Homo sapiens: one gene and its partner. The protein of the gene in region 1 purifies or fractionates together with the protein of each later gene. This does not show direct contact. Each region holds a gene or a part of one and is shown in the gene's direction. Other genes may lie near its edges. The genes, in order: DOC2B and POTEF.

What was found.
Region 2: the proteins of DOC2B (region 1) and POTEF purify together in Homo sapiens (affinity purification with mass spectrometry; one large-scale study listed by BioGRID and IntAct). This does not show direct contact.

What each region holds. Positions count from the first base shown.
Region 1 is NC_000017.11:157,405-161,225, reverse strand, and holds part of DOC2B (double C2-like domain-containing protein beta), read left to right. Parts: intron 1-278; coding exon of another isoform or gene 279-536; exon of another isoform or gene 537-897; intron 898-3,821. UniProt on the Homo sapiens protein: Calcium sensor which positively regulates SNARE-dependent fusion of vesicles with membranes. Binds phospholipids in a calcium-dependent manner and may act at the priming stage of fusion by modifying membrane curvature to stimulate fusion.
Region 2 is NC_000002.12:130,084,159-130,087,979, reverse strand, and holds part of POTEF (POTE ankyrin domain family member F), read left to right. Parts: intron 1-1,592; coding exon 1,593-1,637; intron 1,638-1,984; coding exon 1,985-2,166; intron 2,167-3,821.

The sequences.
Region 1 (3,821 bases):
GGGAGGGTGCTAAGCTGAGGGATCATGGGGGATGACATTTTACCAGGCTCGCTGGCCTGGGCTCAGGATGGCTTGAAGAAGAGGGAGGAGAGGGCAGGAGGCCTGGGGAGATGGGGAGAGATGGGCACAACCCTGGCCTGACCTTGGCAGCGGTAGGAGGGCTTGATTCTGAACCAGATGTGCAGGCAGCAGATAGGACGTCCTTGGGTGAGGGAAGGGCAGATCCGAGGTTTGGGGCCTGAGCCACTGAAGCCTGAGGGGCTGTTTGCTGCACTCAGAGGACTCAGCAGGGACCACGGGTGGACAGGACGCGCAAGGAGCACGCTTGGAACATGTTAGACCTGAGTGCCTGTGAGATACGCAGAGGAGACAGCAGAGTATCCTTTCCTAGAAATGGCATTTGTCTCAACGTTATGTCAGAACAGATTTGCCCTCGGCCTGCTCCAGCAGCTACGCCCTCTGAGTCTTGGTCTCTATGTCCCTCTTCCCTCCCCCATCCTCCCTTGTCTATGGCCTCACCTTCACCTGGTTCATAGGGCTGGTGAAGCCAGGAGTCCCCCGTGCCACTGGGGTCAAGAGAAATCCTGGGGCCTCAGCCTCCCAGCGTTCAGGACACAGGCGGAGGCATGGTCCCCTCGATGGCACGTTGTCCCCCTAAGAGGACTGGGCAAGGGGCAAGTTTGGGAGGACAGAGCCCGGCGGCTGTCCCCAGTGTACCCAGCCCCAGTGGGGCCCGGGGACGTGGACTCACCTCGAGCTTAGCCCAAGTCAAGCCCCGGGGGCGAGTCAGCCTGAGGCCACGGCTTCTTCCCAGAATCCCAGTTACTTTTGCAGAATTTGATCCAATTTTATTCCTTGTCACATTCTCTCCCCCTCAGACATTTGTGTGATGGATATAACCTTTCCTGTTTTATTGTTAGTCACTAACCACAGGTAACCCGGTTTTTCCACATGGTCTATGTCACTTAAGAAAGGCAACATCTTAGGAGGCCAAGGCAGGTGGGTCATGAGGTCAAGAGTTCGAGAGAGCCTGGCCAACATGGCGAAACCCCGTCTCTGCTAAAAATAAAAAAATTAGCCGGGTGTGGGGGTGCATGCCTGTAATCCCAGCTACTCAGGAGGCTGAGGCAGGAGAATCGCTTGAACCTGAGAGGCGGAGGTTGCAGTGAGCCGAGATTGCACCGTTGCACTCCAGCCTGGGTGACAAGAGCAAGAGCAAGACTCTGTCTCAAAAAAAAAAAAAAAAAGCAACACCAGCCCTGCCTTAGTGTTCCTGAGTTTTCATCACTGGCATAAACAAACAACCACGTGGGTATGTACGTGGGGTGTCAGCGTGTGTGTGTGTGTGCTCGTGTGTGAATTGTGTGTAAGAGCATATGTCAGTACGTGTCTGTGTGCGACAGTGTGTGTGTCCACATGTGTGGTGTGCGTTCGTGAAAGCATGTGCGTCCCTGTGCGTGGCCATGATCAGGGCGTTGCTGGATGCGCTACCGGCCCATTGGTGCCGTTCAGGGACTCACAGTGACCGCAGGAGTGCAGCTGGGGATGCACCCCTGACAGTACAGCCACATTCTGGTGGTACTTTTATTATTATTATTTTTTGAGACTGAGTCTTGCTCTGTCATCCAGGCTGGAGTTCAGTGGCAAAATCTCTGTTCACTGCAACCTCTACCTCCTGAGTTCAAACAATTCTCATGCCTCAGCCTCCCGAGTAGCTGGGACTACAGGCGTGTGCCGCCACGCCTGGTTAATTTTTGTATATTTGGTAGAGATGGGGTTTCACCATATTGTCCAGGTGTCTCAAACTCCTGACCTTGAATGATCCACCTGCCTCAGCCTCCCAAAGTGCTGGGATTACAGGTGTGCGCCACCACGCCTGGCTAATTTTGGTATTTTTAGTAGAGACGGGGGTTCGCCATGTTGGCCAGGCAAGTCTCAAACTCCTGACCTCCAGTGATCCTCCTGCCTCGGCCTCCCAAAGTGCTGGGATTACAGGCATGAGCCCCTGTGCCAGGCCTCTGGCGGTAGGTTTTAGAATTTACAGTCTGCGAACATTATCTGTTTTAAGTCAATACTGAGCAAGACCCAGTGGTCTTCATATGAAACAACCCGAAGTACAATGTCCCACCCCTGAAAAAAGAGCTAAAAATATGCCTGCTGGTTGGTTGTTTTTTTTTTTTTTTTATGAGATGGAGTCTATGTCGCCCAGGCTGGAGTGCAGTGGCGCAATGTCGGCTTACTTCAACCTCCGCCTCCCGGGTTCAAGTGATTCTTCTGCCTCAGCCTCCCAATAGCTGGGATTACAGGCATGCGCCACCACACCCGGCTAATTTTTGTATTTTTAGTAGAGATGGGGTTTCACCATGTTGGCCAGGCTGGTCCTGAGCTGCTGACCTCAGGTGATCTGCCCGCCTTGGCCTCCCAAAGTGCTGGGGTTACAGGCATGAGTCACTGTGCCTGGCCCCTGCTAGTTTATATTGTTTAATTTTCACACCACACACACTGACACAAGCAGCACAGGGCATCAAGGCCCTCACACACAAAGCTCTGCCTGAGCGGCAGATAGCGAGATCTCGCAGGCCTGGCCTGATCCACCAGGAATGGCTGCCTGAGCACTGTGTTGAAAAGGATTCTGAGGTGGCATTGGAGCCTAGGGCAAATGCTAGGATCGATTAGCCATGTCTGCTCTGGGCGTGGGAGGTGGCGAAGGTGGCTGGTGGGGCATGTATGTCTTCCCTGCTCAACATCCCTGCTCACCTCACAGGAGTCTCATCTCCAGAAAGGGTTAGATGTAGCCAGAGGGACTCACTTTGGTGTTAGGCAGGGCACGGTTGTGGGCAAAAGGAGGTGGCTGGGGCTGCTTGGGAGAGGAGCCTGGTAGAGTCCTAAGGGGATCCAGGGGGACACAGGGCTCAAGCTGGGCGTGTGTGGGTGGGCTCAAGCTGGGTTTGTCTGGGGGGGCTGAGGGCCTAGGAGAGAGGGTTTGGGGTGTGCAGCAGCCAGAAGGAAGAAGCCGGGTAGTCTCGGGAGGGCAAGGAATGGAGAAGCATCAGGCTGGCTGGGGATGGGGAGGCCTGGAGCTGAGATCTGCCTTGAGAGGCAGGCACTGGCAGCTGCTGAGGCAGGGAAGGCACTGGATGGGCTCCCTACTTGGCTCCCAGCTTCTCCAGGGTGAGGAATGTACCAGAACTCTGTCTTCGGGGTTCTCCTGAGGGAGCCACATCCAGCACCCTGAGAGGCTCCAGGTAGCACCTTCAGGGAACTGGGGCCACGGTGACCCTTTTCCATCCACCAGGCTCCATTGTCATGGGCAGACCTTTCTGCCTTTCTTTGAACCTCCAGGCTGGAGTTGCTTGTATGAGGTTGAACGCACAGGGGACCATCTGTCCCTCCATTCCTGCCTTCACTAGTACAAGCCTCCAGTGGGCCCTTAGTGCCAGGGCCTTGCCCAGCCCTGAGGTATTAAAGATGACGCAGGTATTATCTGGATGCGGTGGCTCATACCTGTAATCCCAGCACTTCAGGAGGCTGAGGTGGGTGGATCACTTGAGGTCAGGAATTCGAGACCAGCCTGGCAGACATGGCAAAACCCTGTCTCTACCAAAAAATAGAAAAATTAGACTGTAGTCCCAGCTACTCAGAAGGCTGAGGCAGGAGAATCGCTTAAACCCGGGAGGCAGAGGTTGTAGTGAGCCAAGATCATGCCACTGCACTCCAGCCTGGGTGACAAGAGTCAGACTCTGTCAAAATCAAAATTTACAGGTAGAGTTCCAACTTCAAGGAACTTAGAGGCTGGGGCAGAGCCCTGAGGAAGCAGGGGG
Region 2 (3,821 bases), on another chromosome or scaffold:
TCAGACTAGGCTTTGAGAATCAGTAGATTGTTTTTTTAAGAATCTTTTGGCCAGGCAAGGTGGCTCACGCCTGTAATCCCAGCACTTTGAGAGGCTGAGGCAGGTGGATCACGAGGTCTGGAGATCGAGACCATCCTGGCTAACATGGTGAAACCCCGTCTCTAGTAAAAATACAAAAACTTAGCTGGGCGTGGTGGTGGGTGCCTGTAGTCCCAGCTACTCGGGAGGCTGAGGCAGGAGAATGGCATGAACCCAGGAGAGGGAGCTTGCAGTGAGCCGACATCCACCACTACACTCCAGCCTGGGTGACAGAGCGAGACTCCATGTGAAAAAAAAAAAAAAAAAAATTTTAATAGATTCTTAAAATTTATTGTAATAAAATCAGCAACCTTATTAACAGAAGAATCAATAGATTCTAATTTAATATTTGATATTTAACTTCAACATAACCCACTATAAAATTTAAAATACTCTTATTTTAAAATATTCTTATCTGCCTTCTTGATTAGCTTATAGCTAATCTCTCCTTTTGGAATAGAGGCAAAAACAAATTTCAGAACTTTGTTTGTTCTTTTATTTTTACAACACCCTAACATGATAAAGAAAGTAACATCAATGATTGAATCATATTATTAAGCAATAGGAATTATGAACAATGTAACACTGATTCCCTGAGCTGGATTCATGGTTAAAGAGTAATCATGGCCTGTGATTGAAAATCCACAGTTTTATATTGTCAGTCACTGATACCAAGGTTAAGGACATATCCTGCCTTGTGGTCTCTCGTTGACCTCAGTGTTTCTGTTCAGGGAGGGAACCAGGTCATAAAAGCAACCCAACTGCCTATTACAAGAACCATATCTTGCAGAATGGGACCTTTGGTGTTAGTGCACAAACACAATAACATTCTAATTTATTTCAGTTGCAGAAAATCAGTAGAGATTAAAAAATTTTATCTGCTGTCATTAGTACACATTAGAATATATTAGAACTGGACTTACGCAGATAATCTGGATACATAACACTATCATATGACAGTATATAATTTCAATTAAAATGTGAGAATTTGCATTTCTTTCTGTTTGGTGTTGATTTCGGCTCCTAATAGTTTAAAGGGTGCCTACAATCCAGTTAGGAATCTTTTAAAAAAGCACTTCAGTGCACTGTAGGTGCTCACTAGTTAGGGTTTCATGAGGTAAACTCTTTTCAAGTGAGGAAGATTTTGGAACACTACAAATCATCTGCTGATTCATTTTTGGTAGATTTAACACATAACAAATTAAATTTAGTCCAAACAAATAGTGAGAAAGTTAAGTTTGCTGGTTCATGTTTTTCTTCTCCCTTTGTCTAAGGTGAATTATTTTTCACATGTTAGAAGCCAGTGATGTGGCAGTAGCTAAACATAGATTAAAAAGTTAATTCTTAATTTTAATTATTATTTATTTTAACAGTTTAATTTTAATTACTTTCTAATTTTTATTGTCCATACTTGATTACTTCAGAATAAAATTATTTTAAAAACATGCACTCCAAAAGAGGAAATGTCACAGAAATACAACAAGCAAATTAACCTTCTGTTTTTACATCTGCAGAAAAGATCTCAAGAACCAGAAATAAATAAGGATGGTGATAGAGAGGTATACCTTTATATTCAAACGTTTGTGTTGAATTAGATTTTTACATTATGTTGTTTAACAAAGTGTAGTAAATGTAGGCATACATGATCCTATCATGTAAGTAGCATAAATCATCAGTGAAAAATTAAATAGTTAACTCAGAATTCTGTACATTGAATTTTGAAGAGGTGCAAACCCTAGAGCTATTCTTTCATTATTATGGAATAATCCCGAATGGTGCCATAAAATGCTAGGTAATGCCACTTTAGGAGCTTTAGACCAATTATTTTATCTTTCTTGGTTTTAGTCTGATTATCAATAGATAATGTGCCTAAAGTAGATAATTTCTTATTCTCTGTATTTTCCAGCTAGAAAATTTTATGGCTATCGAAGAAATGAAGAAGCACAGAAGTACTCATGTCGGATTCCCAGAAAACCTGACTAATGGTGCCACTGCTGGCAATGGTGATGATGGATTAATTCCTCCAAGGAAGAGCAGAACACCTGAAAGCCAGCAATTTCCTGACACTGAGAATGAAGAGTATCACAGGTAAGCCTATGGCAACATTGAACAGGAGGTAACTTTGTGCTGCCAAACTAATCCTAATTTGAGCTAATATTCATGATGAACAAATTTTATACTTTTATTAGGATATTGAGCCTTGCCTGTTAATCAGAAAAATGAAAATCAGCAAACAATCAGTTACCGTTTTTTTTCCAGTCATTAATTTATTTGAAAAATAACCAGTATTGGCAAATGTGAGGGAAAAGACATTTTCTTCTCTTTTCAGTGAACTTTTATTTTAGCTTCGGGGTACGTGTGCAGGTTTATTATATAGGTAAACTGTATCATGGAGGCTTGGGGTACAGATTATTTCACCAGCCACATAGTAAACAAAATACTCGAAAGGTAGTTTTTTGGTCGTCTCCCTCCTGCCATGCTCCTCCCTCAAGTAGGCCCCAGTGTATGTTATTCTCCTCTTTGTGTCCATGAGTTCTCATGTTTAGTTCCCACTAATGAGTAAGAATATGTGGCATTTGATTTTCTGTTCCTGCATGAGTTTTCTTAGGATAATGGCCTCCAGCTCCATCCGTGTTGCTGCAGGGGAAATGGTTTCATTGAAAAAGACATTTCATATACTGTTGGTAAATACATTTTGAACATTAATTGAGTAGCATATTCACACACACATATATAACAGTAAGCATATATAATACATGTAAAGGATATTTGTATAGATATGTTATATGTATACTTATGTATAAGGACATTTATTATAGTATTATGTAAAAAATTTGGAGCTAGTCTAATTCCTTATCAATAGGAAATAGCTCAATTTCCATATCCCCAAAATAATGTATTATGCAACCATTTTTAAAAAATGAGGTTAGATGTAGGGTATACTGATTATTTCACAATTAAAATGTATTTAAAGCGTTTAGTTTGATGACACATCTTAAGAGTTCTTGTTAAATTTCTTGTAATATCTGCTGTGTTGCAAATGGAAGCTACATGCTACATTGACACTGTACCTTGTTAGCAACAAGATTGCTAGTTACTAAATTTTTGTTGTCAGTGCCTGAGTGCTGAAATATTGGACCCTCAATCTGAATATTGCCAAGCGATTGTACATGGGGATCTATATTTAATATAAACATTTCAGTATATTTGGTAAAACTTTTATTAAAATACATCAAAGAATCTTTGATCTACTAAACCAGGAGTTGGCCAGCTTTTTCTGCAAAGAGCTAGTTAGTAAATATTTTAGGCTTTGTGGACTACATATATTGATTTTCTTGAGACAGGGTCTCACTCTGTTTCCCAGGCTGGAGTGCAGTTGTGTGATCATGGCTGACTGCAGCCTCGACTTTCTGGGCTCTAGTGATCCTCTGACCTCAGTCTCTACTAGCTGAGACCACGGGTGTGCAACATCACACCCAGCTAACTGACACTATGGACTGTAAAGTGAATAAGCATGGCTGTGTTCCAAGATACTTGACTTACAAAAACGGGCAGTGGGCTGGATTTGGCCCACAGGTGCTTATTTGCTGACCCTTGTGCTAAAAGGAAGGTGCTGCTAATGCAGTGACTTTTATTTGTAAAAGTGCCCTGCATGTGTGACATTATCCTCCCTTTGAGAAAAGGATATATTTCAGTATTTACCTCACCATATTTTTCCAGTGACTTCATATGATTTTGAAAAC